2 linked regions of the Homo sapiens genome follow. The protein of the gene in region 2 interacts with the protein of the main gene of each other region in a pairwise test. Each region holds a gene or a part of one and is shown on either strand. Other genes may lie near its edges.

Evidence for each region.
Region 1: the proteins of CRLF3 (region 2) and PHYH interact in binary tests that used the Homo sapiens proteins (3 or more experiments, as listed by UniProt).

Annotation. Positions count from the first base shown.
Region 1 is NC_000010.11:13,276,988-13,280,516, forward strand, and holds the end of PHYH (phytanoyl-CoA dioxygenase, peroxisomal isoform a precursor), read right to left. Parts: intron 1,368-3,529; coding exon 1,314-1,367; 3' UTR 812-1,313; downstream 1-811. UniProt on the Homo sapiens protein: Catalyzes the 2-hydroxylation of not only racemic phytanoyl-CoA and the isomers of 3-methylhexadecanoyl-CoA, but also a variety of other mono-branched 3-methylacyl-CoA esters (with a chain length of at least seven carbon atoms) and straight-chain acyl-CoA esters (with a chain length longer than four carbon atoms).
Region 2 is NC_000017.11:30,793,212-30,797,674, forward strand, and holds part of CRLF3 (cytokine receptor-like factor 3), read right to left. Parts: intron 4,188-4,463; coding exon 4,100-4,187; intron 3,127-4,099; coding exon 2,949-3,126; intron 462-2,948; coding exon 239-461; intron 1-238. UniProt on the Homo sapiens protein: May play a role in the negative regulation of cell cycle progression.

The DNA of each region.
Region 1 (3,529 bases), on a different chromosome or scaffold from region 2:
TCCAGTTCCCAGTGGGAGATGAGCTTCACTTGGCTGTCCTCACAAACAAAACGGCACTCATGGCAACACTAGATTTAGGAAAACTTGTGCTTAGCAGAATGACAAGAAAGGTACTCTGTTATTTCTTTCTTACTAAAGCCCTAACTAAAATTTGTAAAAATAAGGACTATGTCTCCTTGCTGCCCTCAGCTGGTACCGAAAATATGGTGCTGTCTTGAAATAAGTTTGTTCAGTCCATGCTCACTCCAAATCCAGGGAAAAGTATCTAAAAAGTTCCCTATAGCTTGAAGGAGGTTAGGCTTCATTCATAAATGTGGAAAGTTTCCAGCAGCCCTACCCAATAAGATACATCAAATGAAGTCACCCTCATCTTCGTTCTTTTTATTTATTTATTTTTCATTCCTTTTTTTTTTTTTTTGAGACAGGGTCTTGCTCTGTCACCCAAGCTGGAGTGCAGTGGTGTGATCTCAGCTCACTGCAACCTCTGCCTCCCAGGTTCAAGTAATTCTTCTGCCTCAGCCTCCTGAGTAGCTGGGATTACAGGTGCATGCCACCACGCTCGGCTATTTTTTTTTTTTTTTTTTGTATTTTTGGAGAGATGGGGTTTTGCCATGTTGGCCAGGCTGGTCTTGAACTCCTGACCTCAGGTGATCCACCCACCTCGGCCTCCCAAAGTGCTAGGATTACAGGCGTGAGCCACTGCACCTGGCCCTTGTCTTCATTCTTCAGGAACAGAGGAAAGGACTGGAAAGAACAAGTCTTCTTGTTAAGGGAATGGTTGGGTTGAAGAAATCACAGGAGAAAGCCCTTGTCCGAGCAGGAATATCCACTTTATTTGGACTCCATGACACCGTTCCTATGCCCTTGACTAGATGTGAATGTATTATACATTGTTCTAGATTTGGGGGAAAAAAATCTCTTATGACATAAAATTGGTAGGGAATGGGTTTATCAGAAAGGGGATACAAAACATACCCTAAGCTCCAAATCATTCACTTCTTCTTGGGTAAAGAGCTAACTGAATGAAAGAAATTGATTTAACACTTAAATTAGACACCAACCACCTTTATTGGCTGCCACCCTAAATTAGTTTTCCTTAAAACAGTAATATTTCACTTTTACTGTTTTTTTTTTCCATTAAAGCAACACCATTGTGCTGCAAAACTAACTCTATGCAATTAAGTACCTGATACATGTTTTCTGCTTTTAACAAGTGATAGAAAAGGTTACATCATCTCATTAAGAAAACATTTTCCTTAGACATTTCGTTTGGTTTTGGTTTTCTGTTGAAAGAGTTATAGCAGATGGCTATTTCAAAGATTGGTTCTTTCTCCTTTCACAAGTCGAGCTCGAAACATCCAAATATCCTGGAAATAATATCAAACAGAGTGGGTTTATGGAACACTTCAATCTGCCCTCCATTAACCTTCAATTTCACCATAACACAAAATTGATTTCTAGCTTCTATGAAAGGTTACATAGGGAAAATAATCCCTGTAAGTTATATTCATTAGTAAACAAAACAACTCAACTTAAACTACTTACTCAACTCTTTTTTAAAAATTTTTTGGGGACACAGTCTCACCCCATTGCCCAGGCTGGAGTGCAGCGGCTCACTGCAACCTCTGCCTCCCGGGTTCAAGCGACTCTCCTGCCTCAGCCTCCCGAGTAGCTGGGATTACAGGTGTGCACCACCACGCCCAGCTAACTTTTTGTATTTTCAGTAGAGACAGGGTTTCGCTACACTGGCCAGACTGATCTCAAACTCCTGGCCTCAAGTGATCTGTCCGCCTTGGCCTTGCAAAGCCTCCCAAGTGCTGGGATTACAGGTATGAGCCACCACTCCTGGTCTACTTAACCGACTTCTAAAACAGTGTTAACTAAATTAAGTCAGTGGGTCCCCCAGCTGCTGTCAGTTCTGTTTTATTCAGGATATTTGTTGGTGCCAGCTAACATAACTGGGTCAATGTCATGTCGGGTTACAGAACAAACAGTTCACTGCCATTTTTCTGCATAATTTTTTTTTTTGAGACGGAATTTTGCTCTTGTTGCCCAGGCTGGAGTGCAATGGTACCATCTTGGCTCATTGCAACCTCTGCCTCCTGGGTTCAAATGATTCTCCTGCCTCAGCCTCCCAAGTAGCTAGGATTAGAGGCATGTGCCACCACACCCGGCTAATTTTATATTTTTAGTAGAGACGGGGTTTCACCATGTTGGTAAGGCTGGTCTCAAACTCCTGACCTCAGGTGATCCACCCGCCTCAAACACCCAAAGTGCTGGGATTACAGGAGTGAGCCACTGCACCTGGCCTGATGACTCTTATGTTACTTGTCTGAGCCTTTTTGAGTGTTCTACTCTTGATGAGATGATAATAGTGAACATGGTATCAAGGATTACTGCTTTGTTTGGTGGGTTTCTTCCCCCTCTGCCCTTAATAAAATAATTTAGATGTTCTTATTTCTTGGTTCTTGTTTATTTTTGAGCAAACAGCAAGGTATGGTGGAAAGAATAATTTTCAGATTTGACCTGACTCTAAAATCAAGCTTTGTCGCTTAGCTAGCTTAGATCAGCCTCTGGGATTTGTTTTCTTGTCATTGACAGCATGGAGTTTATACTGCCCCACCGGGTTTTGGTGAAGAAAATAAGAAAATGAATATGAATGTGCTTTTGTACTTTACAGAGAACTATGTAGCAGAGGTTAATATTGTTATTCTAAATATAACTTACAGAGTAATTAAACTAAATGTGGGAGGTATTCATTTAGCACAACCTTGACAAACCTCAAACATAATGTACATATATTTGTTCTCCCTTAAAATTTAGGATGTTAGCTCAAAGCTCCAGTTGACAAAATGTATAGGCATTTTAGGTACTGAACAAAAAGTGAGGAAGGACAAGAATTTCTAGGACCTGCAAATGCAAAATCAGAGCATTTTCAGAGATGCGACACATTTCCAGGTTCTAAAGGGAGAAGCAAGATTCCTTCTTTTGTTGTTGTTGAGACAGAGTCTCGCTCTGTCGCCCAGGCTGGAGTGCAGTGGCATGATCTCGGCTCACTGCAAGCTCCGCCTCCTGGGTTCACACCATTCTCCTGCCTCAGCCTCCCGAGTAGCTGGGACTACAGGCATGTGCCACCAGACCCAGCTAATTTTTGTATTTTTAGTAGAGACGGGGTTTCACCATGTTGGCCAGGAAGGTCTCGATCTCCTGACCTTGTGATCTGCCTGCTTTGGCCTCCCAAAGTGCTGGGATTACAGGCGTGAGCCACCTCGCCCAGCCATAAATACTCTATTCTATATTAATAAACATGGCCTATGATTGGATCTCAAACCTATAACTTTCCTTCTATCCCTTCAGAAGGCTTTTTTTTTGACACATGGTCTCACTCTGTCACCCAGGCTGGAGTGCAGTAGTGCAATCAGCTCACTGCAGCCTTGACCTCAAGCTCCAAGTGAGCCTTTCAACTCAGCCTTCGAGTAGCTGGGACTACAGCTATGCTCCACCCAACCTGACTAATTTTTATTTTTAT
Region 2 (4,463 bases):
CAATCTTTGGTTTTCAATGAGGCTAAAAATCTTGTCCAGCATTTTTTTTGGACTCTGAAGAACTGATGAAAACAAAAATCACATGAGGTAATCTGAGTAAAAGACATGGTGCATGTTGTTCTTATCAATTCAGGATCTATGCTTAGAATAGCTGGTTGTCAGTGTGCTGCCCTTAGCACAGAATACAGGTATTCTAATATATAGTTAGGCTTCAGGAGAGAAAAGGTTAGCAGCATACCATGAGGCACCAATGTGGAATGACCTATCTGGGGGACACTCCAAGGACTCCACTCCTGTCGGCCATCTCCTCGGGCGCAGACTCTGAACTGGTAATCAACGTTGGGGTCTATGTGCAATACTATGAATTCAGTTTCAGAACCTACATATACATCCTCAAAATGATTTGAAGTACATTTACGAAACTGGAGCCTGTAATCTTGGGCTGTAAAGTCATCATCCACCTAGGGAGAAAAGCTTTATGTTAGGTAAAAAACAGAAAATGACTTCTCTCAGCATCACTGCTTAAAAATTTTGAACGGAGCCATTTTGGACCAAGCAGACAGGCCCACATGCTGAATATGGGGTATTCTTGGGAAGGCCATAGAAAATATGCCATCACATCATTATCTCCCTTCTTTTTTTTTTGAGAAAGGGTCTCACTTTGTCACCCAGGCTGTAGTGCAGTGGCGTGATCTCGGCTTATTGCAGCCTCCACACCCCGGGTTCAAGCCATCCTCTTCCTTCCACCCCACAAGTAGCTGGGATTTCAGGTGCACACCACCATGTCCGGCTAATTTTTTGTATTTTTTGTAGAGACTGGGCTTCACCATATCTCAGATCTTTAACTCCTGAGCTCAAGCAATCTTCTCGTCTCAGCCTCTCAAAGTGCTAGGACTATAGGCGTGAGACACTGCGCCTGGGCTCCCTTCTTTTCTTTATTGAACCATGTGTTCTGTATTTCCCAGTCTGATATAAAAAAGTCTGCCTCCTTTGAAGAAATGGCATGTTTTTTAATCAATGCCAAAGATAAAACATTCAAGATTCAGTAAGTCTCCCACAACCATACATCATTCATAATAACCAAGAGATAATTAACATACAGTATACAGAACCCCCATTAATTTTTAGGGGTCCTGCATATATTCTGTATGTTAATTAGCCACCCAATAGAAAAATGGGTAAAAGACATAAATAAGCGTTCTACAGGAGAAGAAACATAAATAGCCAAAAATGTATATTATGAATATTCAACCTAATTTGTACCTAATTTGTAATATGGCAAATACGATCTAAAACCACAACAAGGCCAGACATGATGGCTCATGCCTATAATCCTAACACTTTGAGAGGCCGAAGCGGGTGGAGCACTTGAGCCCAGGAATTTGAGGCCAGCCTAGGCAACACAGCAAAACCCCATCTCTACAAAAAATTACAAAACTTAGCTGGCTGTGGAAGCACATGCCTGAAGTCCCAATTACTTGGGGGCTGAGGCGGGAGGATCACTTGAGCCCAGGAGATTGAGACTGGAGACATGATTGTGCCACTGTACTCCAGCCTGGGTGACAGAGTGAGACCCTGTCTCAAAAACAAACAAATAAATAAAACCACAACAAGGTACATTTAGGCAAAAATATAAAGTCTCACAATGCCAATTATTGGTCAAGATATGGAATAACAGAAACTCATATACTCCTTGGAAGGCTAAATTGATAGAATCATCTTGTGGAAAGTTTGTTATTACCTATCAGCGTATGGATCCAATACTCTAAGAAGACCTCATAATTTTACACCTAGGTAAATATTAATATTTTACAAACTTCACATATGTCCATAAAGAAACACAAGTAAAAATACTTATAGCAAAAAACTGGAAATAACTAGGTCCACTGATAGGAAAAATAATAAAAATGGAATGACAGTCCTGTTAGAAAATAACAACAGCATGTTTATAAAAAAAGAAAAAAAAATTTCCTTTTAATAAAATCTCAGCTGGGCACAGTGGCTCACACCTGTAATCCCAGCACTTTGGGAGGCCGAGGTGGGCAGATCACCTGAGGTCGGGAGTTTGAGACCAACCTGACCAACATGGAGAAACTCTGTCTCTACTAAAAATACAAAAATACTAAAAATACAAACTTAGCCAGGTGTGGTGGCGCATGCCTTAATCCCAGCTACTTGGGAGGCTGAGGCAGGAGGATTGCTTGAACCCGGGAGACGGAGGTTGTGGTGAGCCAAGATCGTGCCATTGTATTCCAGCCTGAACAACAACAACGAAACTCTGTCTCAAAAAAAAAAAAAAAGAAAATGTCAGCCAGGCGGAGTGGCTCACACCTGTAATCCCAGCACTTTGGGAGGCCAAGGTGGGCAGATCACCTGAGGTCGGAGGTTGCATCGCTGCACTCCAGCCTGGGCGACACAGCAAGGCTTCATTTAAAAAAAAAAGGCCAGGCACGGCGGCTCACACCTATAATCCCAGCACTTTGGGTGGCCGAGGCGAGTGGGTCACCTGAGGTCAGGAGTTCAAGAACAGCCTGGCCAACATGGTGAAACCTCGTCTCTACAAAAAATACAAAAATTAGGCAGGTGTGATGGCAGGTGCCTATAATCCCAGCTACTCAGGAGGCCGAAGCAGGAGAATGGCTTGAACCCGGGGGAAGCGGCAGGCGGGGGAGGGCATGGAGGTTGCAGTAAGCCGAGATCACGCCACTTCACTCCAGCCTCGGTGAAAGAGCAAAACTCTGTCTCAAAAAATAAATAAATAAAATAAAAATAAAACTGGAAGAGCTACCTCAGTGTTCCATGTGACTTCATTTTAACTGTAAAGTAAAAGAGATTTTTGTTTGAGAAGAAAAGAATGTATTTAAAAGTAGTCAACGAAAAAATCTGAAAGGCCTCCAAATCGCAAACCCATAATGTGGAAGTCATTTCTAGAATTCTGAATTACATACCTTACACCATCGTACAATGATGCCTCCAGGTTTCTCTATTAGTTCTTCTATCTGTACTGGTGGGCGAGATGCTACTGTTCCATGCTTAAAAATGTGGTCTTTCACTATGTTAAGAATTGAGTCATCCAACTGAGCAGATAAACAAGGCACATCAACCAGTAAAGGTACTTCTGGTAAGCTGAGGAAACAAAGCTCATGTGTTATGAGACCTCTAACTGAGAGTTAAAAAATACAAGAAATATTTTAGAGCAGTCACATGCTTGAAAGATCCTGAAGCCCCCAGTAATTAATTCTCATGGCAGTAGGGGATTTGCAAGATGTTACACAAAGATTCTCTTTTCAAATAAATATAAGTAAGACAGAAAATTGGTAGGATCATAACTGTCCAGTTTAAGCCAAAAGATCTGGTTTACTGGAATATGACTCCATTTCAACAATACATTGATAATTTCTAAAATTTAACAATTCTTTTATATATTGGATTGAAAAAATGTGTAGTAATACTATACCAAGGATTATAATCACAACTATTTCATTAGTAACAGTGGTAATGGGCAGTGAAACGCTTTTTTTTTTTTTTTTCAGACAGAGTCTCACTCTGTCCCCTAGGCTGGAGTGCTGTGGTGCGATCTCAGCTCACTGCAACCTCCACCTCCCCGATTCAAGCGACTCTCTTGCCTCAGCCTCTCGAGTAGCTGGGACTTACAGGCGCACGCCACCATGCCCGGATAATTTTTTATTTTATTTTATACTTATTTTGAGATGGAGTCTTGCTGTTGCCCAGGCTGGAGTGTAGTGGTACAAACTTGGCTCACTGCAACATCTGCCTCCTGGGTTCAAGCAATTCTCCTGTCTCAGCCTCCCCAAGTAGCTGGATTACAGGTCCATGCCCGTCTAATTTTTATATTTTTAGTAGAGACAGGGTTTCAACATGTTGGCCAGGCTGGTCTCAAACTCCTGGCCTCAAGCAATCCACCCGCCTTGGCCTCCCAACGTGCTGGGATTACAGGTGTAAACCACCACGCATGGTCTGAAAACCTTGAAATATATATTCTCTATCTCCCTTAATGAGAATCTTGAACAGAGGGAGGAAAAAAGCAGACATAGTTTAAATGCTTAAAAGTAAGTCAAAAAGGCACAAACTCTTTTACCTGTCCAACTGAATGTGCGAGGCCTTTTTGGTAAAGCTCCACAGTTTCTCATTCTCTTCTCCCACACCACCAAGCATGGCGATTTCACCTACAATCAAGAATAAGAGAACTAGAACAATGAAAATGGTCACATATAAAGTAATCAACACAACTCATGTCTGGGTGGGTCTCTAGCGTTCTTGCAAATAAGTTCTTAAGTGATGCCACAGTCAAATTCCCAAAAAGTTAAAGTAGAAACTATTTTAGACGTGACTCTAAGATCAAATCCAAGAGGAAAAGGGATATACAGTGGCAACATTTTGCCAGAGATGAAAAATCTATCTACTCTATACAAGGAAATCAACCAATTTTAGGCAAAGCAGAA